Regions from separate parts of the Homo sapiens genome. Here regions 1, 2, 4, 5, 6 and 7 are each reported to be linked to region 3. Evidence: microRNA targets listed by miRTarBase, many of them from high-throughput screens and not tested one by one. Region 3 holds a microRNA gene; each other region holds the end of a gene's coding sequence.

Region 1 (4,075 bases), not on the chromosome of region 3:
AACATAAAGGTCTATAATAAAACTTAATTTATTTAACTTAAAGGGTAGAGCCCTACACTGAGATCTCTTCCCTTTTCTGGTGTTAAAATGTCTTTTGTTAAATGATAGTGATAGTAGATAGTAGTTGTTTTATTAATGATGTCCTATCAATCTCCTCCCCTTTTTTTACATTTTTTCTGTTCAATTAAATACAGAAGTCTAAAGAACTACTGCCTAAAAGTTATCATAACATTGAATTTAGCCTTTGATTGACTACTTCCCAAATAATGTGGAGGCTTCATTGATTTATTAGTATGCACTTTGAATAGTAATTACTTTGTGGATGTTCAGAAAAAGCCATGCAGCTACCTATGTAACAGCTCAAACTCAAAGCCTACGGGCATTTAAAGTTGCCTATGAATAGATCTATAATTCAATGTAACAATATGTAACAAGAGATACTATAACTCTCAAAATGGACTAAAATTGTAAATCTATAGATATAAATAAATGTTCAGATTCTCACATCAAAGGAATCTTTGACATGAGATCCAGGAATCTGTTGTAATCACTTGGTTCACATGCCAGAAAGTAAAATGACATTCAATGTGAAGGCTTAGAAAATAGAAGGTCAGAGGAGAAATTAGGCGTAGAGATGTTGGATGTATGTGTGGCTTATCTGCTAGAGGAGTAGGAGTTAAAATGGGGCAAGATATGGAGATAAGTGTTGGGAGTCATTTTTATAAAGGTGCACAAGCTCTATAAATTAATGAAGAGGTAATGAGTTCTATGTATAAGGTATTACTAAAAGATAATTCATTCAGTTATTTACTAACTTACTGTTTTATGGACTTTTTAGGTATAAAAAAAGAACAAAACAAAATCCCTACCCTCAAAAAGCTTACAATTCACACAGAAGGACAAACCTGTGAACAATTAAGTAGAATACAGTATGAGGCTATTAGCACTATGGGTGCCCTAAAGAGGGAAAGACTCATTCTTCATAATACTGGTGACAGGGAAGGTCATGGAATAGAGAATTACAGATTGCTTTACCAAAGGTTAGGATTGAATTTTGAGAAATTCTCACAACTGGGGGCAAGAGGAAGAAGAGGAACTGGTGAAGGAGTTAGAAAAGCAGTTTTAAGAGAGTAGAGGAATCATAATTGACATAAAAGTACCAACACAAGGAGTTTAAAAATAGCATCAGCAAATATATCAAAAGCTATAAAAAGTTTGAGGATAAGGATTGAAAGATTAATAAAGAGGGAAAATAGGTTTATTTTATACTAAGGGGTCTCCAGAAATGCCTTGGTCTAATTTAGAAATCTTTGAAGTAAGAATCCAGGAATCCCTCCCTAATCTGGAACACACTCCTGGAAAATAATGTTGTATTCAAAATCCAAGCTCAGAAAATGTAGCGTTAGAGTAGAAAGGACAAAAATGGCACCTGGACTTTTCCTAAATTATTGCAGTCCTTAAGGACACCGGTCTTCGCACAATATACTGTATTAAGAAAATGGGCTAGGCATAGTGGTTCACAGCTGTAATCCCAGGACTTTGGGAGGCCAAGTCAGGAGGAATGCTAGAGGCCAGGAACTCAAAGACCAGCCTGGGAAACGTAGCAAGACTCTATCTCTGCAAATTTTTATTTGTTTTTATTATTATTTTTTGAGATGGAGTCTCACTCTGTCACCCAGGCTGGAATGCAGTGGTGCGATCTCGGCTCACTGCAACCTCCACCTCCCGGGCTCAGGTGATTCTCCTGCCTCAGCCTCCCAAGTCACTGGGATTACAGGCACGTGCCACCACATACAGCTAAATTTTTGTATTTTTAGTAGAGACAGGGTTTCACCATGTTGGCCAGGCTTGTCTCAAACCGCTGACCTCAGGTGATCCGCCTGCCTTGGCCTCCCAAAGTTCTTGGATTACAGGTGTGAGCCAGCACCCAGCCTGCAAATGTTTATTTTTTCAATTACCCAAGCATGGTGGGAGGATCACTTGAGTGCAGGAGTTACAGGTTACAGTGAGCTATGATCATGATAACTCCACTGCATTCCAGCCTGGGCAGGAGAGGCAGACCCTGTCAAGAAGGTTGCGGGGGTGGAGAGAGAGAGAGAGATAAGAGAGGAAGAAGAAGGAGTTGGAGAGGGAAGAGGAGGAGGAGAGAGAAGAGGAGGGGGAGGGGAGGGGAGAGGAAGGGAGGGGAGGGGAGAGGAAGGGAGGGGAGGGGAGAGGAAGGGAGAGGAAGGGAGGGGAAGGGAGGGGAAGGGAGGGGAAGGGAGAGGAAGGGAGAGGAAGGAGAAGGGGAAGGGAAGGGAAAAGGGAGAAGGGAGAAGGAGGGTAAAAAAAAAAAAGGAGCAAACACAGGTCTTCTTTGTACTGCTCCATAAACACCCACTGGGTCGGCCAAAAAGGTGGCTGAAAGTTATTGCAGTGTTCTTTTGCTTTAAAAAATTGAAACTGAATTGCTCATACATTAAAAGGATAAAAAACTAAAAACTTTGGGAGACATTTAAAACAGGGTTATCTCAAAACCATGGTTAAATAAATGTCAACTGACAAAGTATTACTGAATTACCCATTCCTTTTCCTTCTCCCCATAAGGGAAAACTAGCTTTCAGAACAGGACAAAGAAGAGAAAGCCATAAGAACGAACAATAAGTGCTTTTTAAAAACCATCTTCTTTTCTATAAAACTTTTCCATAAAGTCACAACGTAAGAGAAGGTTGAGGCGCCTGATTAAATAAATTAGAAAAAAGGCTTTCCAAACCACCAATATGAAACCAACTATCGTACTTAAAACCTAGGAAATATAAAACAGAATGGGAGGGGAAATGGTCTTCAGTCCAGTTACAATATCTGTATTGCCAGCCTTACAGAATAGGAGAACTCTTCTAAGTATAAAACTATACAGATTTGTGTTTATTAATTTACAGATAGAAGGAGGTCAAAGATAAAGAGGGGTTTTACTCAGAGGTATACCCCACCTCACAGGTGAAATTTAATTTTGGACATAAAAAGTGATAGTTGTACCCAGAGGCTCCTAATCCAAGCTGGTCTTAATATTTCCTTGCTCCAAGTGTCATTCCATAAGATTTCCTTTTTAGGCAGGGAGAACAAATTTTTTCTCTGGAAATAGCCAAATATGTCCTTTTATATGGAATGCCTCAATTACACAGAAAATTATTAGATTCTCTGAGTAGTTCTTAAAGCCTCCACATGGTCTTCACGAATGATTTATACCCAAGTGCTTTCCTGAAGGAGCACGTGAAACTCACATGGGGCTGTGCTTGGAGGAGCAGAGGCGAGGCCAGAGTCCGGACATAAGCATGCTGAACAGGTCAAACAAAACAAGGGCGATGTAATGTTGTACTTAAATACTTAAAGAAACCCACATCTGTTTTCTCGATTTCAAATGGCATGAATAGGTTTGCCTTTCAGATACTAAAAGAAAATGTGGCCTTTTACAGAACGTATGTTCAGTTGGAGGTATCATCTTGACTTCTCTTCTGGTCATGGCTTGTTACAGATTTGGCACTTTTCACTTGACCTGAAAGGAAACAGATTTTAAAATTACATTTAATTAGTTTGCAATATGAAACAAAATGAAGCCAGTTTTTAAGACAATAAGAATGGAATAAATTAGATTGTCCCAGGCTGAACCAGCTACTAATTCAACCCTAGTGTTGTTGGTATGTCATTCAAATAGTCTCTCCTGTTCACTATATTTAAAGCTGTGAGGTCACATTTCCCATATAATCAGTATTATTGTCCCTAGTTCTGCCATTGATGAGAGTAACTTTGAATAAACCGCTAAACCTCTGTTGTCTTCACTTTCTTCACTGCAAAGTCAGGGTTCATTTCAGAGGTTCCATCAAGATCTAACATTCTGTGATATGAAGGTGCTTAGAGAACATGTGATATAGGGGGTCGGGGGAGAGAGGCAAATCTTCACAGGTGAGAAGGGAAGGAGGGGGGATTGTTGGGCCAGGTTAATGGTACTGGTGGAGAGGTGGGAATAACCGTATATCCAATAGTCCCAGCTACTTAGGAGGCTGAGGCAGGAGGACTGTTTGAACCCAGGAATTCAAGT
Region 2 (4,069 bases), not on the chromosome of region 3:
CCCTCCGGGCCCGGTGGCCGTCGTGACAGCAGCATCCAGCGGCGGCTGGAGAGCAACGAGAGGGAGCGGCAGCGGATGCACAAGCTAAATAACGCCTTCCAGGCCCTGCGTGAAGTCATCCCCCACGTGCGCGCGGACAAGAAGCTCTCCAAGATCGAGACGCTCACGCTGGCCAAGAACTACATCAAATCGCTGACGGCCACCATCCTGACCATGTCCAGCAGCCGCCTCCCAGGCCTGGAGGGGCCGGGCCCCAAGCTCTACCAGCACTACCAGCAGCAGCAGCAGGTGGCTGGGGGTGCGTTGGGGGCCACGGAGGCCCAGCCCCAGGGCCACCTGCAGAGGTACTCCACGCAGATCCACAGCTTCCGAGAGGGCACCTAGCGCCCAGTCCTGGGTGGGGGTGGCGGTGGCCGCAGCTGCCTGGCCTGCTCCTCCCAGCCCCAGTCCCTCCAAGCCACGAGCCCCAGATGGGCGGTGACACCCCACAAGGACACGGCCTCAGCGGTTCCATTTTCCCCCGAACATTCAGCCACTTCCCTGGAGCAATTTTTCCTGCCCCGCTGGGGACCAGCGAGTGGCCTAGTTGCGGCTGTGGCCCTGGACAGCGGCGTGAGGCCCAAACCTCTAGGTAGGGCCCAGTTGGATCCTGATTTTTCATTGAGCCAGGCAGTCTCAGCCCGAGTTGAAAGGCCTCCTTAGCCTTGGAACTAACGTCTCTTCACCCTGACTTCTGGGCAAGGGGAGATCCCAGGAAAAGGTTTACCTGCAGGTTTTCCAAGGCCAAAGCCCCAGCAAGGACCCCCTCTCCAACCTTTGTTATAGGGCTACATGGGGCCTGGGCTCAGCATCCTCATTTGGGGTAAACTGAGGCCCGGGACAAGCCCGGCAGAGCCTAAGGCTGCTCGGGGAGTGGGGCCAATCAGAGATGATTGGAGCTGCCAGAAACTCTAATCAGATGACCTCCAATTCATCCTTAAAAGTTGAATGGTGGGGAGGGGCTGGAGTCTCTTCCTCCCTCCTCCCAAGTTGGGGCTCCTGGATGTGTTGACTCCAGGCTGTGCCTGGTTGTGGAGGGTCTGGGGCAGGGTGTGAGGGGTGCTGTGGAACTGGAGCAGGAGACAGGGCTGGGTGTTCCTGGTGCAGCCCTTCTGGGCATGGGAGAGAAGCCCCAAGGCCCTGGGTTGCTCCCCAAGAGCAGCTCTGAGGCCTCCTGCTCAGCCCTGGCCTGTGTGGGGAGCGAGTGTGCCCCCCACCCAGCCCCTGCCACCGCCGTTACTTATTCTCACTGATGTGGGGTTATCATATAATTGGCACCATGCTGTCTGTAGGACATTATGACGTGCTTGGGTTCTGGTTTGAGTTGGCAGCCCGTTGGGTCTCTCTGCCTGGTGGAGCCTTGGGGTGGCAGGTACGTCCCTTCCCCCGCCCAGGTGCTTCATCCTCATGGCCAGGCCTGGTGGCTTGGCACGTCTCTGCTGCCCCAAGCCCAGCTTCCTTCTGCTGGGCGTTCCTGCCCCACTGGCTCTGCCGGACTTGGCTACTGGACTCTCCCCTCCCTCATGCCTCTGCCCAGAGATGTCCCAAAGGCCCTCAGGGCCAAGCCGGGCCAGGGATGTGGCTGCCACAGCTGAGACCAAGGGCTCTGGCTGGCCCGTCCCCACCAGGTGGCCCTGCCCTCCCCAAGTTGGGGGTTGTGGCACTTGGGGTCAGGCCTAGCCACGTAAGGACACAGGTAACACCCTGAGGATCTGGCATTGGCAGCTTCAGGCCTAACTTTCCTGGTCAGGGCCCCTTAAGGTGGCCCGGGCACATTGGTTTCATTTCGATGAGACTTTGTCAGAGGCCTGGTCTGGTCCTGGCCCTACCGCCCCAGCTGTCCTTCAGCACAGCTCGGGGTGGGGACTCCAGGATGCTGGGTCTGCCCCTTGGGAGGGGCACTCTGGAAGGTCAGGGTGATCCACAACTGTGAGCTGAGGTTGGATGCAGCTGGGAGCTTGGGACAGAGAGAGCCCAGGGCTCCCCTGCTGTGGGGCACCTGCCCAGCGGGGACATGAGATGACAGAGACCTCCCCGGCGGGGGTACTCAGGTGCTACGAACATGGCAGCTCTTGTTTCCGGCTGAGCCATGGCCAGAGCAGGGCTCAGTCTGCCCCTGAACTTGCTGAATGGACCGACGAGCTGAGCCTGAAAGCCCAGAAGAGCCTCGGTCCAGAAGACGGAGACTCGGCCCGGTGTCCAGCGCAGCCCAGGGCTTCCTGGGGGGCAGCAGGAGTGCCTGGGGGTCACCGCCTTCAGGACAATGGCCTCAGTGGCTCTTTCTTTCTGCCCTGAACTGGCACCTGCACCTCCTCTGCTTCCTAGAGGGTGACCTGGGCCGAGCCGCCCAGTCCTTCTTCCCCTGAGGCCAGAGGGGACGCCCCGCGGCCACATCACACAGGATCCTCAGCAGCCATAGTCTCGCTTCAGGGTGTCCAGTGTTTCGAGGAGGAGAGGGGACAGGGGCCAGGTCCACTCCCTTGGCCCTCCTCTTGGACCCCAAGGCCAGGCCGGATCCTTTTATCCCGTGGGGAGCCCCTGCCTCGGCCATCGGGATGAGGTCCCTCAAGTCCCTGCACAAGCAGGTCAGAGACCCACCCACATGCCGTTCCTGGGCTACGCCACGCGCCATCCCCCGGGGCTGTGGACGCACCCAGCCCCCGACAGACAGGCGCCCTGAGAGCTCCGAAGGCGCGATCCCCATCCCCACCAGTGGAGAAGCCAGAACCGCGATTGTTGCATCTGGGAAAACCCAGCTGGAGCCGAACGGCCCGTGCCCCCACTGTAATTGTGCTGAAAATGTTTCTCAAATGACCCAAATTGGCTCTTATTTTTTCTAATGGCCCTTTCAAAGTATTCATGAAATTGATGCTGTGTCATAAAACAAAAATAAAAGATTTCACAGCAATGTCTGCTTCAGGCACACGGGGAACCACGCGTTTTAATCAACGTATCGATAAAAAACACCAGGGCACGGACACTCCAGGGGAAATGCTTATTGAGTAAAGTATCCGAGGAAGTGATGCAGGGCAGGTAAACAGCTGGTGCTCAGCAGCGAGAGGACGCGTCACTCTGCCGTTCTGCAGGGTGACGCCCTCCCCGTACCTCGCTGAGAGCCACCTGCAGACACAGCAGGCCACAGCAGAATGCACAGGTCACTGTTGTAGGGGAACAAATCGTAATGCCCAGAGAAAACCTGATAGTGAAATGTAAACAGACAGGACAGGGTGGTTCCAGGTGGCCACCACCGCCAGGCCCTTCCCGTGATTGATCTGAGAGCTTCACAGCCGGCGGCACTGGGACCCATTTCCAGAAACACTGGAACACCAGGTCTCTCAGATGCCCGCGGGAGGGGCCCCAGGGAGGCCTTTCTCAGCATCAGCTTTTGGGTGACAAACCCCATACAGCAAAACTGTACAAATACACACAACGGACCCCCAGCTGACAGTGAGACCAGGACCCTAGGAAGGTCAGGTGGTGGTGAAGTCATCCCCTCTCCAACCGAGCAGAGCCTGGGGTTGGGCTCTGATGACCTCCCGGGCAAAGTGTCCAGGTGGAGGAAGCAAACTCCCAAATGGGGCACAGAGGTAATAAAAAGCAGCTGAGAGACTGCGGGATGGGGTCGGGGCCACTTGGCCGACACCTTCTGCCTCGCCTGGCCGGGCCGGGCCAGCCTCTCGCCACAGGATGGAGGGTGACTGTGCACCCTGCTCCATGTACAGGACGGGCTGAGGGTCCCATGGCCACTGCCGACAGACACAGTAGTACTGCTCCCCACAGAAGCCCGCAGTCTGCACCCTCCTACAACATGATTTGACATCCAAGAAGCCCCTGTCACCAGCGCATCTGGGGAAGGGGCCGAATGGGGGTTGATGATGGTGACTGCACACACGGACACTGCCTCCAGCCATGGGGCAGCCTCTCATCCTCTCCCAGCCTCCCGTCTGGTACCCCGGCCCCCTCAGGGAAGAGGACATCCCATCCACTCCAGTGTTATTTCCAATCTGCTGTCTCCTTCCTTCACTTTTTT
Region 3 (4,075 bases):
ATGCTGCAACTTGAGATTACATATAGCATATTAAAAATAACCTTCTGTAACTTCAATAAGTGTTCACAATTATACAAATGACATTGTATTTTAAGTAATTTAATAAATTGCTTTGGGAAGTCTCAATTTCTTGGTAGTTAGGATGAAGGTTTCCAGTGACACATTTTCTTAAAAGAGAATATGCTCTTGGTTACAGCGAAGGGGACACCAGAAAGTGAGGTACTACAACCTCAGACTGCAGGACTCCTTGGCTTATCCATTTGGAGTCTTGTAGGGTAGCAGCTTGGAGAGAACTGCCTGACTCGCTCTTCCAAAAGCAGGCACAAAGAGTGCAGAAAGTTCTGCAGAGTAGACATGTGTAGAGATTTTTAAATAATGTTGTACTAGGCCAGGCACAGTGGCTTACACCTGTAATCCCAGTGCTTTGGGAGGTGGAAGTGAGAGGATCACTCGAGGCCAGCCTGGGCAACAGAGAGAGATCCTGTCTCTACAAGAATAAAAAACATATAAAAATAATGTTGGATTAAAGTGCATGGTCTAACACTTTGGGGAAGGGAAAAAAAATAGAGAAATGAGATAAAGGTATCAAGGACACTCCTTATAATAAAACAAATTAACCACTGCACACCTAGTGCCCACCCATTAGCTGAGTGAGGGCTTGTCCATATGCCATGGGCGCAATTGGATACACAGTCAAGTGGTGACTGAGGTGTCTTCATTTCACAGAGAAGTAAACTGGTTCACAGGATCAGAAAGTTGTCTGATGTTCCCAGAAAAAGTAGAGGGAGAGGGCAGGAACTGAGAACCCAGATGGGCCGCCCCCAGCCCAGAGCTGCATGGAGGGAAATGGGCATCCCCATCCTCGCTGAGCACGTCCAAGCTGATCCTTGATCCAGGCAGGCCACCCCTAAAACCCCATCCCGGAGGCCTCTAGACACCAGCACCCCTTAACAACAACTACTATCCTCCCCACCCATACCTCTTCTCAGCCTGGTTTCTCCTGGCTTAAAACATCCCTTATCTTGCTTCTCTCCATCCTTACCCCCATCCTTGAAGGCCCAGGTTCAAATCCTGTCTCCTCTTCCATGAGGACAGCCTTGATTCCCCCAGTCCATCGATTTCATCCTCTTCTCCTGGCACTCAGGATCCCCCAAAAGGAGTACCAAGCCCTCACCACCTGGAATCCACTCTCCTGGCTACCATGCTTCCCAGGAGAAATGGTTCCAGGTGAGCCAGGAGGCTGGAACTAAGCAGCCTGTCCCTCAGGTGGCAAATGACAGCCAAGGGCTGGCAGGCCCCGCCCACGGCACACAGCCACTAAATGCCAGCGCTCCTCCTCTCACACTGAGCATCCAGTTAAATTGGGCTCCCTCTGGGATGCTGCCTCTTCTCCACAGTCAGACATCATCCTCCTCCCAGAGGAAAACACTTCTAGTGATGTGTGACCCTGGGTGGCAACTTCAGAGCAAGGCGGCAAAGAAGCAAACCAGCTCCCTGCTCCATCTCGGATTCCTGTCCCGCCTCTTCTCCCTTTCTCAAAGGCTGGTTAAATCCTAACACCTTACTGACAAGTGTTTCAGGACTGTTGTTTTCAAGTTGTTGCTTTTTAAGTATCAAAATAAACCATATACATTTTAAAATACGTATCCTCAAAAAAAAGTAACACTTTGGCCTTTTATCCAAATGTTCTATAAAAGGGGAGGCATCATTCAGGCCTTCGACCAAGACTTGCTTCCGTATTTAAAGAAGTGCAATAGTAACATAGCTTTCTCCGGCCACCCGCCAAGAAAAGTTTTTGTCGCCACAGTAAAAAGAGAACATGTTTGCTCAATATGTGGGCACTATTGAACTGCTTAAAAACTGGGCCTCTTTTACCAAGCAATTTGAGTCACCTCAGTTTTAAACGAGTCTCTGCACGTTCCCTTCATATACCATAGGTGATCACATATGTGGAGGGACGAGGGACCACAGCAATCCCAGTGCCACGGGCTTCCAATCTCGCCGGTCTGCCTGTCACTCTCCCTGGGGGCGTCCAATCTTCTCCCCCAGCCTCCGCTATCTCTAAATTGATGGCTGCCCACTCTGTGGTCCATTGTGACCTTCTTCTCTCTCCCTCTCTAGATGGTGCCCATGGGCCCCTAGTCGTGAGTGGGGTAGAGATGAAAATAAAGAATCATCACCCTGAAGCCGCTGGTGGCTACCTGAAGCTTCATGATACCATTCTCTGTATCTGCACTTGTTTGAAAATTTCCATTATAAAGAGTTAAAAAAAGACGATCCATCAGAACTTTGAAGAATAAAAGTTTTTTAAAAAAGAGAAACATTCAGTTAAAAATAGGAGTATTCATGAGAGATATTTTAAGTTCATTTGAAGGAAATAATTCCTTATGTGGTAAAGGAAAAGAACAAAAATATAATGGCTGCATCTCAAGAATAAAGTTACATAAAAGTTCCTTATAAACAAGCTTCAAAGACAACCATAAAATAATAAAGGTAAAAATATATCTCACTAGTTCCAAATGTTGACTATTTAGAAAGGATAGCATTTGTAACACTTCGACCCTTTCATTATTAGACAAATATATTTGAATCTGAAAATATCATTCGGCTTCCCAGTGAACAATCTAGAGCCAGACCTGGAGGGTTAAAAACACACATGCACATAAAACTCACCACAATTGTGTTATTCCCTGATCAAGACTCAAAAAAGAAGTACTTTGGAGAACCAGTTGGATGTTAAGTGCTTCTCAAAGAAAATAAACAATTAGAAAAATTTCTACCAGGCACTTTGGGAGGCCAAGGCAGGTGGATCACCTAAGGTTGGGAGTTCGAGACCAGCCTGACCAGCACGGAGAAACCCTGTCTCTACTAGAAATACAAAATTAGCCAGGCATGGTGGTGCATGCCTGTAATCCCAGCTACTCAGGAGACTGAGGCAGGAGAATTGCTTGAACCCAGGAGAAAGAGGTTGCAGTGAGCCAAGGTCATGCCATTGCGCTCCGGCCTGGGCAACAAGAGGGAAATTCTGTCTCAAAAAAAATTCTGAAGCACAAATAAACTGCAGCAAGTTTATGGTCCATAGAAATATCTTCCCAGAGCATTAACACTTTCATATTCATGAGTTCAATGGATTCCAATAATAAACATGTGAAATTGGCTGTGCAGGTTTCATGCGATTCTGCAGGGAGGTGGGAAACAGGAGCTAAGTGGGTTGCCATAGCTACAAAGACATTTGATGTCAGCTCTGGGACCAAAACCTACTTCAAGTTCTCTACATCAGCCAGTCCCTGACCCCCAACTCCCAGGATCTCCACTCCCTGTGACAGCTCTTGCTGCTTCTGGGGTCTTGCACCAATAGCAATCTCCACTGTTTCCCCCATCTTCAGCCTCTCCCTCTCCAAAGGCACCAGGCACATGCTCCTTGTCATGCCCATTTGTCCTGCCTTGACCCTCCCAATCCCCCTCACCTTCTAGAATCTTCGCAGTCCTTGCACCCTCCTGACTTTCTAGGGCACCCAATACTGCTGGCCACCATGTCTACCCCACCCCAAGCTCAGGAACCCCCAGGGTTCTCTTGCATGTTGGCAGCCTTTGCTCCTTGGCCCCATCCCACAAAATGGACTTGCTCCACAGTTCTGGGCCCAAGTCTATTGCTGGGTCTTCCCTTACCCCCTATTCTTGTCCCCTAGACATCACTACAGACTCCCATATCCCGTATGCTAAAAAATGCCCCAATATACCTGTGTCATGGCCCTTCTCCTAACCTCCCTTAGTTGGTTTCCAAATTCCTTTACACCCACCAGGAGTCTTTCTCTCACCCACCTCTTCCAAACAACACACATACATATTTCAATCTTGTACTATCCCTGCCCTGGTTTGAGCCCTCAGTTTCCCCTCTACTAAGACTAACTTTAATGAAGTGGCCTAACTCAACAAATGTCAAACGCCTACTTAAACCAAGCAGTGTTGAAAACAGGCAGCAAAGAACCAAGTCAGAGTTGATTGCTGTAAGGTTGATAAACACTTAGATGAAATATGAAGCACTGCACAGGGGATAAGGAAAGGCTGCTTTATG
Region 4 (4,000 bases), not on the chromosome of region 3:
CTCGGGCCATGCTCTCACCAGATCTGCAGGCTCTGGGTTGGGCTCTCAAGGCCATGCTCAGGCTGCAGGGTCGGTGATCCTGGGGGTCTGGAAAGGGGGTCTGTTGGGGACCGGGGTGAAGTCCCAGCCTACTCCATTCTCTCCTCAGAGATCCGAGAGGCCTTCAAGGTGTTTGACCGTGACGGCAATGGCTTCATCTCCAAGCAGGAGCTGGGCACAGCCATGCGCTCACTGGGTTACATGCCCAACGAGGTGGAGCTGGAGGTCATCATCCAGCGGCTGGACATGGATGGTGAGCACCCCCCCGCCTCGGTTTCCCCACCTGGCATCTGGGCCCTGGGGGTGGGGCAGGGGCTGGGGCCTGAGCTGCTGAGGCTGCATCCAAATTGGGTCTCTCGCTCCCCTGACTCCCACCCTCAAAGTCCGTGGCAGGTTGCAGCCCGGTCTGGCCCCATTTCTCAGCCTGGAGAATTGAGGCCAGAGAGGTAGTGACAGTCCCAGCCACATGCAGGGCTCAGAGATGGCTCCTTTCACTCTGTGTTGAGAAGTTTTAAAGTACAGAGAAGTAAAAGGATGCAATAAATACTCCAGTTCCCACCACCTGAGATAAAATGACTACTTGAGTTGTGTTTGCCACCTGGCATTTTATTAAGGAAAAGTTCATAAGGAATAGTGATGCCAAGCCCCCTCTTTATCCCACCCGGGCCCTTCTTCTCCTCTTCTCCATCCAGAGGCCAGGTGACAGCCTTGGCAGGTTGCCCCACTCTGAGCTTCAGTTCCTGTCTATATGGTGGAGGATGGCCCACCCCAGGATGGCCGCAGGGTGCTGGGAGCAACGGAGGGTTCTGGGTGAAATAGGAGGGTCACGGCCCACCTGCTGTCTACCTCCACCTCCCCTTGTAAGGCCTCATCACACTGGGTGGCTTCAGCGTCAGCCCAGAGCCTGGCACTTGGTAGATGCCCCTGACACTGACTCAAGGCTCAGAGAAGGCGGGCACCTGCCTAAGGCCACCCGGTAGGCCCAAGGTGTATCAAGACTCCATCCCAGGACCTCTGGGCCCTGGGCTGCAGGCCTGGGCCCTACCCACTGATTGATTGGACCTGTGCCTCCACCAGGTGATGGTCAAGTGGACTTTGAGGAGTTTGTGACCCTTCTGGGACCCAAACTCTCCACCTCAGGGATCCCAGAGAAGTTCCATGGCACCGACTTTGATACTGTCTTCTGGAAGGTATCCCCTGGCTAGTTGGGACCCAGGGCTGTGCACACTGTGGAGTTCTGTTCTGGAGCCAGTGAATGGCTGGGCCCACACTGTAAAGGGGGGATGACCACTTCAGGCTTGTGTCCACTGGACATTTCACCTCTCAGAGGGCCATGGGCTCCCTGGGGAGGCCGGTGTTGGTCAAGGACTCTCTGGGGGAATGGAGCAAGTGTTTTCCAGCCCCCCAGAATCTAGAGGCCTGTCACCGGGTCTGTATGGCCGTGGGGTGCTGGGTGGGGGCTGCGGTGGCTCTCAGAGCACCGTGTTGTCCCCCTCCGCAAGTGCGACATGCAGAAGCTGACGGTGGATGAGCTGAAGCGGCTGCTCTACGACACCTTCTGCGAGCACCTGTCCATGAAGGACATAGAGAACATCATCATGACGGAGGAGGAGAGCCACCTGGGCACAGCCGAGGAGTGTCCCGTGGATGTGGAGAGTGAGTGGCTGGCCCTGGAACCCCACGGGTGGGCCCAGTGACTTGGCCAGGGGGACGCACGGGGTGGGGAGAGTCTGCAGAGGGGGGCTGGGGGCCTCCTTGCCTGTCCTAAGCCTCTGTCCCATTGGGGCACCCCATGGGATGAGCCCATGTGCCGAAGGGCAGGCGGCTCCTGACTCCATCGCTTTGATGTCCCCTTCTGTCTCCCCGGTGCTCCCGGCGGGCGGCCACAGCCTGCTCCAACCAGCAGATCCGCCAGACTTGCGTGCGCAAGAGTCTCATCTGCGCCTTCGCCATCGCCTTCATCATCAGTGTCATGCTCATTGCGGCCAACCAGGTGCTGCGCAGTGGCATGAAGTAGACGCCACCTGGATGCCCCATCCACCGCATGCGGTGCCCGTGGCCCGCCCCACACCACCGCCGCCTGCAGACCTCTCCCTTGGCCGGCTCCCTGGGCCGCCATCTGCGTGTACTTCAGGGCCTGGGTATCCAGCGAGCCCTCCCCACCCACCCACGGTCCTCACCTGGAGCTGTGGCCTGGCTGTGGAGGGCCGGGTGGTGGCTCTGAGGATGGTCCCCAGCCCCACCCTGTCCCCACCCTGGCCTGTAAGGAGCACTCACTCTTCCTACCATCCAGGGGCTCCTGGGAAATTAAGGAGGGATTTGCACAGGAACCCCCAGGACCCAGTCGCTGCTGTGGTCCCTTGGGCAGGAGCGGGCACCCTGTGCCTTGAGACAGCAGCCTATCTGGGGCCACACAGCCAACCCAGCCCTGGTCCCTGAGGTCTGCCCAGGGCACAGGGCACAGGCAGGGACAGAAAGCCTTCTCCTGGGGGAGGGTGGGAAGCCAGGGTGTCCTGGGCCTTGCTGCCTGGCATAGCCTGAGGAGGCCCCTGGTCTTCTCCTTGGGCCCCTTCCTCTGACCCTCGTTGGACCCCAACCCAGACCCCCTTTTCTCCATGTACCTGCTGGGCCAGCCCATTTCACAGGTGAGGAACCCGAGGCTCAGGGCCCCGAGACTTGGCCTCAGTTCTTCCTTCCACAGGGATTTTCAGGAAAGGCAGAAGCTCGTGGAGGATGGGCATCTGAGGTGGCCCTGCAGCCCCCCACCTTCTGGCCCTCCCACCAGAGGCCCAGCTACCAAGGCCACATTGTCCACCACCCCAGCCTAGAGCCTAGAACTGTAGTCCAGCTGAGGAAGGAGGCAGAGCTGGGGCCTGAAGGCTCTGAGCAGCCTCCAGCCAGGGGGCTCCTCCAGGGCTGAACTTTGGGAGGGCCCCTGTACTACCTCCTGGGCCAAGAAACTGGCACAGCCCCACACTGTCAGTGCCAAGAGGCTGCGCCAGGCCACTCTCTCAGCCCAGGGCCTGCCCTCCTGTCCTCCCACTTCTCTACGCCCTCAAGGTTGGAGACCCCGCTCCCATGCCCCAGCTGTGCCATCCCAAATACTTGGGCAGCAGCTCAGCATGGGCAGACATGGGGGCTGTGGATTCTTCCAGGGCGGGGATGGCAGATGGAGCCCTTGGGCTCCTTGGGCCTAGAGCCACTTCTTACCAGGCAACGGGCACAGCCACCCTGGCACACCCTCTGCCTGGCCGTGCTGAACCTCTGCTGGTCCCAAGGGAGAAGGGAGTGAGCGTGGGTCACCTGGGGAAAATCTCATCTGATTCCCTCCTTGCCCGACCTCTGCTAGGGGCTGGAGAACAGAGCTCAGAGCACCCAGTGTAGGGAAACACAGCCAGACCACTGTGGTGACAGACTTTCTTTATAAACATTTGGAAGTTTTCTCCCCCATCTTCTTAAGAAGCAGGGGGGCAGGTGGAGGAGAGTGAGGGGAGAGCTGCCCGGTGCAGACCCAGGACGAGGGCTGCACTTGGTGTGGCCGTGTCCTGAGCCTCAGTGAGGCTGGGCAGATGGTCTCGGAGCCTCCATGGGGCGTAGCAGGAACCGGGCTTGGCTTCCTATTGTGACTGATGAGAAAAGTGACCACGTGGGGGTCAGTCGGGGGCAAGGGGCTCAGCCCCACTGGACTCTGGGCTGCAGAGGCCACCCCCCAGGTGGGGGTGCCCGCAGGGATGGAGGCAGCTCCTGAACTGGTGGCCAGCCCACGGGGTACTGGAAGACAGTGGTTCTGATGGGTTCAGCCCTAGAGAGAGAGAGAGAAGCGGGGAGAATAAGAGTGCACTACAGCCCAGGCTTATGCCACCCCCAGCCCACCTGCCTCACCACCCTGGCTGTGGGGAGGGTCAGCTGCCTGCATGACTTTTCTGGAAGGCAGAGCCTCGAAAATAGGCAGACCGTTTGA
Region 5 (4,075 bases), not on the chromosome of region 3:
AGTCTTGAACTCCTGACCTCAAGTGATCCACCTTGACCTCCCAAAGTGCTGAGATTGCAGGCATGAGCCACCGTGCCTGGCCAAGCAGACGATTGATAAGTAGTCTAGGAACTCCAGTTTGCTTATAGTACCCCCCTCAAGGTGGCAGCTGAGTGGCCTATCTTACCCTTCTGAATCTTACCTCACAGAACTGTTTCTTTTCCTGCTTCAGGAATCGTGCGGGAGCTGAAAAGTCGAGGAGTGGCCTACAAATCCAGAGACACAGCTATAAAGACCTAGCAAGATGCAAGGCTGCCAGCATCTTTGCTCTCCACCTCCTGCCTCTGCTTATTTCTTGTTCTGGAACTAAATGAACAGAACTTCAAATACTTCCTACCCTCCAATTCAGACTCAGCTGACTGTTGAGAGAGCAGCACATCATTTTATCATTTTATCTTCTTTGGACTACAGGTGGGGTGGGAGGGATTTGGGTTGGTGGATTAACAGATGGAATTGAGGAGAGAGTAGGATGCTGATTTTCCTACCCGTGGCCCAGGTCTGTGCCTTCCCCATGCCAAGGACTCTAGGTCAAATGTCAATAAATATGAACCTCGAGAAAGTTCTGAAGGCCATGACACCTGCCTTGCCTCCCTCTTCCATTCTCTTAGGCACAGTAATAGCTTATTTGCCCTATAAGAACCTTCCCAGAGCAGCAGAGGCCCTTCTACTCCCTCTTGACTGTCTCAGCCTCTGGGATTGCAGCCTTTGTAGTGTGCTTCCTTGCTTCCTATCGGAGGGTGCTGATCCAGAGGCTCAGTAACCCCATCAACTTGGTGGCCCTGGTGTCTCACACTTGTATCCTTCTGCCCTCGAGACCTGGCACAGCAGTATCCCTTGAAGAAATCCTGAGGCTTTGTAGAGTGCTCCTTGACCATGTTTAATAATTCTTCCCTCCCCTGCTTGTCTATTTTCTTCTCTTCACGGCTCTTCCTATACCTTAGGCCAGTCTCAAGCACTCACTGGAGACCCTTGGGCCTTGGGCGACCATTGAGTCCTAGTCTCCCTTGTTTGTGCCCCTGTAGGAGGTAGGTCCTTTTCTCCTCCGGCCTAGTAGGGGACCTTGGGTAACATCCCATTTTTCGGCCAAGGTGAGTTGTTTTAGGATAAAAAAATTTACCACAAATTCTCATTTAAATTTCCACAGAAATCCTGTTCGTATCCCCATTTTGATTTCCCTAAGTTCCTTGTTCTCCCTCTAAAAAGAGAATGATTGCACCCTGCCTGTTTACCTCAGGATTGTTGTGATTGTAGAAACGAAGCTATGTGAAAATTATATAAGTATTATAAAGGTGAAATACTTTTGCTCTCCTTTTTGGGCCATTTTTCAATACATAGAATATGTGCACAATCAGCCAAAATAGTAGGGGAAATGCTGAGAACCACAACTGCAGGGTGAGCTGTGCTGTGCTAGGGCAGAGCTGCCTGTGCTAGGGCTTTGTGTCTCAGCCACCTGGTGTTGCTCTTGAGTTGATTTTGCTTGTTACCTGTGGCCTGGAGAGTGTGGGAAGGAGGAGAGATGCGACCTGACTCTGATTAGTTTGTCTACTCCCCTTCCTTGTCCTCACATAGGCCTATGGGAGGGAAACTGGGACTGGCCGGGCTGCTCATGTCCACTATGGTCTTCAAACCAAAACCATTTTCTCTGGTGCCTTCAAGCTCTGAGGGAATGGTCAGATAACCCCAACTCCAAACTGAGTTTCTCAAGGATTTCCCCAGCCCAGCAAACAGAAAGCTCCGTGGGTGGTGATTTCTGTTCAATTTCAACCTGAAAGCAACCCTGCCAGGCTAGAGCTTACGTCCTGGATGGAAGAAGTGCGTTTCAGCAAGTGCCCAGGCTGTGCAGCCAACACCCAACTTTCACTAGCTTCTCAAAAAGTCCCTTGGAAAGCCCCAGCTGCTGTCCTGGGTGTCTGACCCGGACGTGGCTGCTTGGTGAGAATGGAAACAGTTGTGGGGAGGGGAGGCAAGAGGAGCTTGCACAAATAACCACATTCAGGCTGCCTCAGCCCTACACTGAACTGGGCCCTAACTGACAGTCTCACAGGAAGCAAAAGACATAGCATAGGCATTGATGCTTGTGGGGGAAGGGTGGCCTGTTTTCCTTCCTGGACTCTACAGACTGTGCCAAGTGGGCTCTCCCCGGGAGCTGCTGCTGAATTAGCTTTCTTGCTTTCTCTGGTACTTGAACATGCAGGTGGTGCCACTCAGCAACCCAGACAGGCAGAAAGGTGCTGGAGTCCCATCCTCTACTGGGAACCCAAAGAAACTAAGACAAGGACTTGGTTCACAGCTCCCTGGGAGTGGGCGGTCCTGGTACTGCTGCCCTGCTTTCCATGGCTATGAGGGCAGCCATGAGAGCTATGTCCTGCCCCATTGGCCCATTGTGTCTGTCAGAGTTTCAGTCCCGTCCTGGCTGCCGAAGTTCTGAGTGCATAGCATCTTAAGATCTCTCCTTGTCTTGCTCAGTAGTTTGGCTTCTCTCCTGAAGAGCAAGCCTCCTCCCTAGCTCAACAAGGACAGATGCAAGTCAGACAGAGACTAGGAATAGTAGCCAGGCTGCCTTCCCCTTGCCTGCCCTTGCCTCATTCCCTGCTTCCTCCCTGCCACATACTGTGGAATTAGGGTCTCCCAGAACACTGAGGAGCTCAGTGGCAGTGCATTGATAATGCAGCCTCCAGCTCAAGAAAGGACTGGTAGCTGATAGAGCAAGGGTCAGGATGGTCTGGTCTTGGAGGGGAGCAGTTTCACCAGGGTTGGGAACTGAGGCTTTGCTCTTGGTGTGGCTTCTGCCTTGTTACTCCTAGTCTGTCTGCAGCCTGCTACTTGATCCTCAGGTCCCCTCCCTGACATCTGGTCTCTATGAAAGAGGCAGGTAGGTCATGTTTAAGAACAGACTAATAATAACTTTGTCTGGAAGTCTGGTTCATGTTTAGTATCAGTAAAGCCTTTCATGTAAATATTTTTACAGTTGACAAAGGTGCTGGGTGCTGTGGCTCATGCCTCTAATCCCAGCACCTTGGGGAGGTCAAAGCGGGCAGATCACTTTGAACCCAGGAGTGTAAGACCAACCTGGGCAACATGGCAAAAGCCCATCTCTACAAAAAATTAGCTAGGCATGGTGGTGTACACCTGTAGTCCCAGCTACTTGGGAGGCTGAGGTGGGAGGATCCCTTGAGTCTGGGAGTTTGAGGCTGCAGTGAGCCGTGATGGCGCCACTGCACTCCAGCCTGGGGGACAGAGTGAGACCGTGTCTCAGAAAACAACAAAACAAACCCAAATACAGTTGACAAAGGGCTTTCATATCCAGTATCTCATTTGATTCTCACAGAAACCCTGGAACTAGTTAACATCCTTATTTGGTGATGAGGAGACTGAGACTCAAAGAGTTAAAGTGTCTTGACTGGGCACGGTGGCTTATGCCTGTAATCCCAGCACTTTGGGAGGCCAAGGTGGGTGGATCATGAGATCAGGAGTTCAAGACCAGCCTGGCCAAGATGGTGAAACCCCGTCTCTACTAAAAATATAAAAAGTTAGCCAGGTGTGGTGGCGGGCGCCTGTAATCCCAGCTACATGGGAGGCTGAGGCAGGAGAAGTGCTTGAACTCGGGAGGCGGAGGTTGCAGTGAGCCAAGATCGTGCCACTGCACTCCAGCTAGGGTGACAGAGCAAGACTCTGTCTCGGGGTGGGGAAGAAAAGAGTTAAAAGTGTTTTAGCCATAATCAAGTAGTGGAGCCTCAGCTCAAGAAATATAATGTCCACACTAAGTTTAGGGCTACTAACTGTTTGTGACATAGTTGTCCACAAACACAGCAAGTTTTTTTCCCTCCATAAGTGTTCAACAGAACCAGTGTGAGGCATTAGCTTTCTTCTGAGTGAAGTTATTACAACACATTGTCCCTACACGTTGAGCCCACCAACCACTCTAATCCCACCACTCTAGTCCCTAAGTCTAAAATTAGCCAAAGAGATGGAGGCAGTGGGGCAATGGCCCAGGGAGGGGATCCTTGGGATTTACTCAAGGATTCCTGTGCAGAGC
Region 6 (4,075 bases), not on the chromosome of region 3:
TTCACGTGTCCCCAGTATGTTCGTATACATGAAAGGACCCACTCTAGGAAAAAACCCTATGAATGTACGCAGTGTGGGAAAGCATTATCCTCTCTTACAAGTTTTCAAACACACATAAGAATGCACTCTGGAGAAAGACCTTATGAATGTAAGATATGTGGGAAAGGCTTTTGTTCTGCCAATTCATTTCAAAGACATGAAAAAACTCACAGTGGAGAGAAACCCTATAAATGCAAGCAATGTGGTAAAGCCTTCATTCATTCCAGTTCCCTTCGTTATCATGAAAGGATTCACACTGGAGAGAAACCCTATGAGTGTAAGCAATGTGGGAAGGCCTTCAGATCTTCCTCACACCTTCAATTGCATGGTAGGACTCACACTGGAGAGAAGCCCTATGAATGTCAGGAATGTGGGAAAGCCTTCAGATCTATGAAGAACCTTCAAAGTCATGAAAGGACACAAACACACGTAAGAATACACTCTGGAGAAAGACCTTATAAATGTAAGCTATGTGGGAAAGGCTTTTATTGTCCCAAATCATTGCAAAGACATGAAAAAACTCACACTGGAGAGAAACTCTATGAATGCAAGCAATGTGGTGAAGCCTTCAGTAGTTCCAGTTCCTTTCGATACCATGAAAGGACTCACACTGGAGAGAAACCCTATAAATGCAAGCAATGTGGGAAAGCCTTCAGAGCTGCCTCAGTCCTTCGAATGCATGGTAGGACTCACCCTGAAGATAAACCCTATGAGTGTAAGCAATGAGGGAAAGCCTTCAGATCTGCCTCACACCTTTGAATGCATGGTAGGACACACAATCAAGAGAAACCATGAATGTAAAGAATGTGGGAAACCCTTCAGGTCTGCCCAGAACCTTCGAATTCAGTAAAGGACACAAGCACACATAAGAATGCATTCTGGATAGCTGAACAAAAGGCAGCAGAAACTTCTGCAGACTTAAATGTCCCTGTCTGACAGCTTTGAAGAGAGTAGCAGTCCTCCCAGCATGGAGTTTGAGATCTAAGAATGGACAGTCTGCCTCCTCAAGTGGGTCCCTGATCTCCAAGTAGCCTAACTGGGAGGCACTTCCCAGTAGGGGCCAACTGACACCTCATACGGCCGTGTGCCCCTCTGTGACGAAGCTTCCAGAGGAAGGATCAGGCAACAACATTTGCCGTTCTGCAATATTTGCTGTTCTGCAGCCCCTGCTGGTGATACCCAGGCAAACAGGGTCTGGAGTGGACCTCAAGCAAAATCCAACAGACCTCAGCTGAGGGTCCTGACTGTTAGAAGGAAAACTAACAAACAGAAAGGACAACCACACCAAAACCCATCTGTACATCACCATCATCAAAGACCAAAAGTAGATAAAACCACAAAGATGGGGAGAAACCAGAGCAGAAAAGCTGAAAATTCTAAACATCAGAGCGCCTCTTCTCCTCCAAAGGAACGCAGCTCCTCGCCAGCAATGGAACAAAGCTGGACTTTGACTTTGACGAGCTGAGAGAAGAAGGCTTCAGATGATCGGTAATAACAAACTTCTCCAAGCTAAAGGAGGATGTTCGAACCCATCACAAAGAAGCTAAAAACCTTGAAAAAAGATTAGACAAAATGGCTAACTAGAATAAACAGTGTAGAGAAGACCTTAAATGACCCGATGGAGCTGAAAACCATGGCACGAGAACTATGTGATGCATGCACAAGCTTCAGTAGCTGATTCAATCAAGTGGAAGAAAAGGTATCAGTAATTGAAGATCAAATGGATGAAATGAAGTGAGAAGAGAAGTTTAGAGAAAAAAGAGTAAAAAGAAATGAAAAAGCCTCCAAGAAATATGGGACTATGTGAAAAGACCAAATCTATGTCTGATTGGTGTACCTGAAAGTGACAGGGATGGAACCAAGTTGGGAAACACTCTTCAGGATATTATTCAGGAGAACTTCCCCAACCTAGCAAGGCAGACCAACATTCAAATTCAGGAAATACAGAGAACGCCACAAAGATACTCCTCGAGAGGAGCAACTCCAAGACACATAATTGTCAGATTCACCAAAGTTGAAATGAAGGAAAAAATGTTAAGGGCAGCCAGAGAGAAAGGTCGGGTTACCCACAAAGGGAAGCCCGTCAGACTAACAGCGGATCTCTTGGCAGAAACTCTACAAGCCAGAAAAGAGTGGGGGCCAATATTCAACATTCTTAAAGGAAAGAATTTTCAACCCAGAATTTCATATCCAGCCATACTAAGCTTCATAAGTGAAGGAGAAATAAAATCCTTTACAGATTCAAATGCTGAGAGATTTTGTCACCACCAGGCCTGCTGTAAAAGATCTCCTGAAGGAAGCACTAAACATGGAAAGGAACAACCGGTACCAGCCACTGCAAAAACATGCCAAATTGTAAAGACCATTGAGGCTAGGAAGAAACTGTATCAACTAACGAGCAAAATAACCAGTTAACATCATAATGACTGGATCAAATTCACACATAACAATATTAACCTTCAATGTAAATGGGCTAAATGCTCCAATTAAAAGACACAGACTGGCAAATTGGATAAAGAATCAAGACCCATCAGTGTGCTGTATTCAGGAGACCCATCTCACGTGCAGAGACATACATAGGCTCAAAATAAAGGGATGGAGGAAGATCTACCAAGCAAATGGAAAACAAACAAAAAAAGCAGGGGTTGCAATCCTAGTCTCTGATAAAACAGACTTTAAACCAACAAAGATCAAAAGAGACAAGGCCATTACATAAAGGTAAAGGGATCAATTCAACAAGAAGAGCTAACTATCCTAAATATTTATGCACCCAATACAGGAGCACTGAGATGCATAAAGCAAGTCCTTAGAGACCTACAAAGAGACTTAGACTCCCACACAATAATAATGGGAGACTTTAACATCCCACTGTCAACATTAGACAGATCAATGAGACAGAAAGTTAACAAGGATATACAGGAATTGAACTCAGCTCTGCACCAAGAGGACCTAATAGACATCTACAGAACTCTCCACCCCAAATCAACAGAATATACATTCTTCTCAGCACCACATCACACTTATTCCAAAATTGACCACATAGTTGGAAGTAAAGCACTCCTCAGCAAATGTAGAAGAATAGAAATTATAACAAACTGTCTCTCGGACCACAGAGCAATCAAACTAGAACTCAGGATTAAGAAACTCACTCTAAACCACTCAAATACATGGAAACTGAACAACCTGCTCCTGAATGACTACTGGGTACATAACAAATGAAGGCAGAAATAAAGATGTTCTTTGAAACCAATGAGAACAAAGACACAACATACCAGAATCTCTGGGACACATTTAAAGCAGTTTGTAGAGGGAAATTTATAGCACTAAATGCCCACAGGAGAAAGCAGGAAAGATGTAAAATTGACACCCTAACATCACAATTAAAAGAACTAGAGAGGCAAGAGCAAACACATTCAAAAGCTAGCAGAAGGCAAGAAATAACTAAGATCAGAGCAGAACTGAAGGAGACAGAGACAGAAAAAACCCTTCAAAAAATCAGTGAATCCAGGAGCTGTTTTTTTGAAAAGATCAACAAAATTGATAGACCGCCAGCAAGACTAATAAAGAAGAAAAGAGAGAAGAATCAAATAGATGCAATAAAAAATGATAAAGGGGATATCACCACCGATCCCACAGAAATACAAACTACCATCAGAGAGTACTATAAATACCTCTATGGAAATAAACTAGAAAATCTAGAAGAAATGGATAAATTCCTGGACACATACACCCTCCCAAGACTAAACCAGGAAGAAGTCGAATCCCTGAATAGACCAATAACAGGCTCTGAAATTGAGGCAATAATTAATAGACTACCAACCAAAAAAAGTCAAGGACCAGATGGATTCACAGCTGAATTCTACCAGAGGTACAAAGAGGAGCTAGTACCATTCCTTCTTAAACTATTCCAATCAATAGAAAAAGAGGGAATCCTCCCTAACTCATTTTATGAGGCCAGCAACATCCTGATACCAAAGCCTGGCAGAGACACAACAAAAAGAATTTTAGACCAATATACCTGATGAACATCGATGCA
Region 7 (4,075 bases), not on the chromosome of region 3:
AACGAGCCTCTTGTCTTCTAAACCACATAGAAGATGGTCATCCTGTGTGACCTGTTCACCAGGCCCTGAGCCTTCTCAGCGCGGGTCCCTTTAAGTCCAGTAAGCCAGCACTTGATGTGACTCGACCCAGTTCGGTGGGCACCACCTCAGATCTGTTTTGTAATGCTGAGCAAGTTATTTTTCCTTCTCTGCCTCCGTTTTTGTTTTTGTCTTGCTTTTCTTGTTTTTGTTTTTTTTTTTTTTTTTTTGAGACGGAGTCTTGCTCTGTCACCCAAGCTGGAGTGCAGTGATGGGATCTCAGCTCACCGCAGTCTCCTCCTCCTGGGTTCAAGCAATTCTCCTGCCTCAGCCTCCCGAGTAGCTGGGACTACAGGCGCACGCCACCACGTGCGGCTCATTTTTTATTTTTGTAGAGACGGGGTTTCACCATATTGGCCAGGCTGGTCTTGAACTCCTGACCTCAGGTGATCCGCCCGTCTCAGCCTCCCAAAGTGCTGGGATTACAGGCGTGAGCCACCGCGCCCATCTGCCTCCGTTTTTCCAATTGTACAATGTAATTAGCTCCTGCAGTCCGTCTGGCTCACTTTCAGCTCTGTCTCCTAACCCCTTGTTCCGTCCTTACAGCATATAGGCGGGAGCAGAAAGGCAAGAAGGAGGCCTCAGAGCAAAAGAAGAAGGACAAAGACAAAAAAACAGACTCGGAAGAGCAAGACAAGAGCAGGGATGAGGACAATGATGAAGACGAAGAAAGGCTGGAAGAAGAAGAACAGAATGAAGAGGAAGAAGTAGACAACTGAAAAGGGCGGGAGACTGTGGCACCTTGGAAGGTACCACTTGAAATGAGACGTGCTACGTGTTTCTGTGAAGCTTTTCCATGCTGGGCAGAGTAGTCTCAGGCAAAAGTGCCTGAAAAGATCAGAATAAAAACTGACTAGAAATACCGTCAAAACCAGCACTTACCAAACTCAGAGCATCTGAGTAGCAGAATCCTGTTTTGCTTCATCAATCTGAAGGTTATGGCCTTTTGACAAGAGGGATTCTGAACGACTAAATTAGTCAGTTTGCTCGCTTTTGTTTACTTAAATGTATGGTTAGATGGTTTTTGATCTGCAGTCTTCCCTAGTCCCCCAAATAAGTAATAATAACTTCCATGCTGCCTGCTGTGTTCCAGATCACAGAGGCAGCCAAGGCTCAGGAAAAACTGGGGCTTTGCTTATGGTCAGCCTATGTTTGATTGCACAGTCTTTGACAATAGTAGCTTACTAAGACTGCTCAGAATGAGTAAGCTTTAGGAAACTACTAAAATGCTGTGGGAGAATAACAAAATCCGTTCTCTCTCTTCACTTGACAGAAGCATTAACTGAATTTTGTTTTTCATAGACCCACTTGGCCCAAAACCTTTCTATATTGCCTGTAGATGATCGGCCTGCTGGTGTGGTAGTAATCTGATCACAGATATTCTTAAATCAGCAGTGTGGAATGGTATTAGTCAAACATGGTGCCAGTGTCTTTTACAAAAACAGATGGCATAGTGTCAGATGTACCTTACTCTCTGCTACTGTACAGCTTTAGGATTTGTCATCACCTCCCGGAAGGTGTAAAACCCCAGGCTTCCTCTTCTTGTAGTCCATCTCCCAGACTTGTGACTATGGCTTTTCATTCTTCAATTCATGACGAGTGCCAAACTTGATTTTCTCTAGGCACAGCTTTCTCCCTCTGTGCCTCCTGCTTCCTTTCTCTCTCCTGCCTCTCCTCTGCTCCCCATCCCACTTTCTCATCTGCCTCCTTTTCTCACTTCTGTCAGTCTGTAAGCTTTGATAACCTGCTTAATACTCCAAAGTGTGAGTTCCTCTGATCTCTTGATTCCTTAGTTCTAATCTCACGTTTTGTTTTTAAGAGATGGAGTCTCTCACTCTGTGGCCCAGGCTGGAGTGCAGTGGCATGATCATAGCTCATTGCATCCTTGAAATCCTGGGCTCAGGTGATCCTCCCGCCTGAGCCTCCTGAGTATCTGGGACTACAGATGCGTGCCACCAAGCCTGGCTAATTTTGTCTCATGTCTTCTAAAAATTATTTTGTGAAGCCCCTTCACAAAAAACCTTAAGGGAAATCTGATGGTGCTCAGGAATCTAACTCTCCCTAAACCATCCTCTTTAACTGCTTCTAAAATATCTCTGTTGGCCTTTCTTAGCCTTTTTCTGTTTCCATTCAGTGCTCCAAGCGCTTTTTGTTTCTAAGTTGAGTGCTTGGGGTTTGACAGGTAGTGACGTGTAGTTTGACACTGTTAACTTGTTAAATACAGTGAAAAGTTTGTGAGTGAAGAATGCTGAGAAGATTGTAATGCTTTGTACAAATAAAAGTCTTGTTAAAAAATGATGCCTCCTGTTTCATGCTGCTTGTTCACAGTGTGTTTTTGGAGAGAGCCCCTGATGATACTCTCCATGCAGTTTTTGGCGTGTGGTCCTGGCCAGACCTTTGTAAACATGAGATACTGCATCGCCTTGGATGACCAGCAGGTGCTGCTCATTCACAGGCAAGGGCTCTGAACTACTGCAAGAGCATTTGTTTTGTTTTGTTTTGTTTTTTTTGAGACAGAGTCTCAATCTGTCGCCCAGGCTGGAGTGCAGTGGCATGATCTCGGCTCACTGCAACCTCCGCCTCCCAGGTTCAAGCAATTCTCCTGCCTCAGCCTCCCAGGTAGCTGGGATTACAGGCACCCACCACCATGCCCAGCTAATTTTTATATTTTTAGTGGAGACAGGGTTTCACCATGTTGGCTAGGCTAGTCTGAAACTCCTGACCTCAGGTGATCCACCCACCTCAGCCTCCCAAAGTGCTGGGATTACAGGCGTGAGCCAACACACCTGCTGAAAGAGCTTTTTTTTTTTGTAGACGGAGCCTCACTCTGTCTCCCAGGCTGGAGTGCAGTGGCATGATCACGGCTCACTGCAAGCTCTGCCTCCAGGGTTCACGCCATTCTCCTGCCTCAGCCTCCCTAGTAGCTGGGACTACAGGCACTCGCCACCATGCCTGGCTAATTTTGTTTTTGTATTTTTAGTAGAGATGGGGTTTCACTGTGTTAGCCAGGATGGTTTCGATCTCCTGACCTCATGATTCGCCTGCCTCGGCCTCCGAAAGTGCTGGGATTACAGGGGTGAGCCACCATGCCTGGCCGGTGCAAGAGCTTTTCATGGATGTGCTGGGCACCCTTATACATACTAGATTCTCAGCAGCTTCATTTATTGAGCCCCCTACTGTGTCTGGCACTAACTGCTTTCAAGTATTAACCCTTTTTTATTTTTATTTATTTATTTTTTGAGACAGAGTCTCACTCTGTCACCAGGCTGGAGTGCAGTGGCACAATCTCGGCTCTCTACAACCTCCACCTCCCTGGTTCAAGTGATTCTCCTGCCTCAGCCTCCCAAGTAGCTGGGACTACAGCCGCGCACGCCACCACACCCAGCTAATTTTTGTATTTTTAGTGGAGATGGGGTTTCACTATGTTGACCAGGATGGTCTCAATCTCTTGATCTCGTGATACACCCGCCTCAGGCTCCCAAAGTGCTGGGATTACAGGTGTGAGCCACCACGCCCGGCCTTAATTTTTTTTTTTTTTAATTTGAGACAGGGTCTGTGTTACCCAGGCCAGTCTCCAACTCCTGGGCTCGAGCAATCCTCCTGCCTTGGCCTCCCAAAATACTGGGATTACAGGCATAAGCCACCACACCCAGCCCTAAGTATTAACTCTTAAACCCTATGAAGCAGCACTGCTGTTACCTTTATTATCTCTTTACCACAATGCTATATCACCTATCTAATCTACATAGCTTTTTCTTTTTTATTTTGAGACAGAGCCTCGCTCTGTCACCCAGGCTGGAGTACAGTGGCGTGATCTTGTCTCACTGCAGCCTCTGCCTCCCCGGTTCAAGTAATTCTCCTGCCTCAGCCTCCCTAGTAGCTGGGATTACAGGTACCGGCCACCACGTCCAGCTAATTTTATTTTTAGTAGAGATGGGGTTTCACCACATCGGCCGGGCTGGTCTTGGTCTCGAACTCCTGACCTCAGGTGATCCGC

Evidence for each region. Region 3 holds the annotated microRNA hsa-miR-5192 (AGGAGAGUGGAUUCCAGGUGGU, at 1,173-1,194, opposite strand). A microRNA usually pairs through its seed, bases 2 to 8, with sites in the 3' UTR of a target mRNA and lowers its output. Matches are read on the target gene's strand: a 7mer-m8 pairs with bases 2 to 8, a 7mer-A1 pairs with bases 2 to 7 and ends in A, and an 8mer does both.
Region 1: miRTarBase lists ANKRD45 as a target of hsa-miR-5192. Seed matches in the 3' UTR shown: 7mer-A1 at 2,124-2,130 and 7mer-A1 at 2,084-2,090.
Region 2: the mRNA of BHLHA15 is a reported target of hsa-miR-5192. Seed matches in the 3' UTR shown: 7mer-A1 at 806-812 and 7mer-m8 at 1,548-1,554.
Region 4: the mRNA of ZMAT5 is a reported target of hsa-miR-5192. Seed matches in the 3' UTR shown: 7mer-m8 at 3,519-3,525.
Region 5: the mRNA of SUPT4H1 is a reported target of hsa-miR-5192. Seed matches in the 3' UTR shown: 7mer-A1 at 307-313.
Region 6: the mRNA of ZNF69 is a reported target of hsa-miR-5192. The part of its 3' UTR that is shown has no 7-base or 8-base seed match.
Region 7: miRTarBase lists POLE3 as a target of hsa-miR-5192. Seed matches in the 3' UTR shown: 7mer-m8 at 2,133-2,139.

The regions. Positions count from the first base shown.
Region 1 is chr1:173,606,684-173,610,758 of GRCh38, forward strand. It overlaps ANKRD45 (ankyrin repeat domain 45), which reads right to left. Exons shown (of 6, transcript NM_198493.3): 6 at 1,653-3,532. The coding sequence ends at 3,462. Among named protein-coding and RNA genes, the nearest start is that of SLC9C2, 5.6 kb to the left of the region's middle.
Region 2 is chr7:98,212,496-98,216,564 of GRCh38, forward strand. It overlaps BHLHA15 (basic helix-loop-helix family member a15), which reads left to right. Exons shown (of 2, transcript NM_177455.4): 2 at 1-2,962. The coding sequence ends at 384. It overlaps TECPR1 (tectonin beta-propeller repeat containing 1), which reads right to left. Exons shown (of 26, transcript NM_015395.3): 26 at 2,129-4,069. Among named protein-coding and RNA genes, the nearest start is that of BHLHA15, 3.1 kb to the left of the region's middle.
Region 3 is chr2:62,203,001-62,207,075 of GRCh38, reverse strand. MIR5192 (microRNA 5192) reads right to left here and starts at 1,250; the gene lies at 1,159-1,250. All of the region lies in intron 1 of B3GNT2 (UDP-GlcNAc:betaGal beta-1,3-N-acetylglucosaminyltransferase 2), which reads right to left. RefSeq lists an enhancer at 3,960-4,075.
Region 4 is chr22:29,727,514-29,731,513 of GRCh38, forward strand. It overlaps ZMAT5 (zinc finger matrin-type 5), which reads right to left. Exons shown (of 6, transcript NM_001003692.2): 6 at 3,443-3,841. The coding sequence ends at 3,712. It overlaps CABP7 (calcium binding protein 7), which reads left to right. Exons shown (of 5, transcript NM_182527.3): 2 at 149-292; 3 at 1,117-1,229; 4 at 1,542-1,695; 5 at 1,929-4,000. The coding sequence ends at 2,056. Among named protein-coding and RNA genes, the nearest start is that of CABP7, 9.5 kb to the left of the region's middle.
Region 5 is chr17:58,342,450-58,346,524 of GRCh38, reverse strand. It overlaps SUPT4H1 (SPT4 homolog, DSIF elongation factor subunit), which reads left to right. Exons shown (of 5, transcript NM_003168.3): 5 at 212-1,347. The coding sequence ends at 279. All of the region lies in intron 3 of TSPOAP1-AS1 (TSPOAP1, SUPT4H1 and RNF43 antisense RNA 1), which reads right to left. Among named protein-coding and RNA genes, the nearest start is that of SUPT4H1, 7.7 kb to the left of the region's middle. RefSeq lists an enhancer at 1,778-2,307.
Region 6 is chr19:11,905,334-11,909,408 of GRCh38, forward strand. It overlaps ZNF69 (zinc finger protein 69), which reads left to right. Exons shown (of 4, transcript NM_001364730.1): 4 at 1-1,363. The coding sequence ends at 765. Among named protein-coding and RNA genes, the nearest start is that of ZNF700, 18 kb to the right of the region's middle.
Region 7 is chr9:113,405,533-113,409,607 of GRCh38, reverse strand. POLE3 (DNA polymerase epsilon 3, accessory subunit) reads left to right here. Exons shown (of 5, transcript NM_017443.5): 5 at 625-2,373. The coding sequence ends at 797. Among named protein-coding and RNA genes, the nearest start is that of POLE3, 3.1 kb to the left of the region's middle. RefSeq lists enhancers at 1-33, 1-135.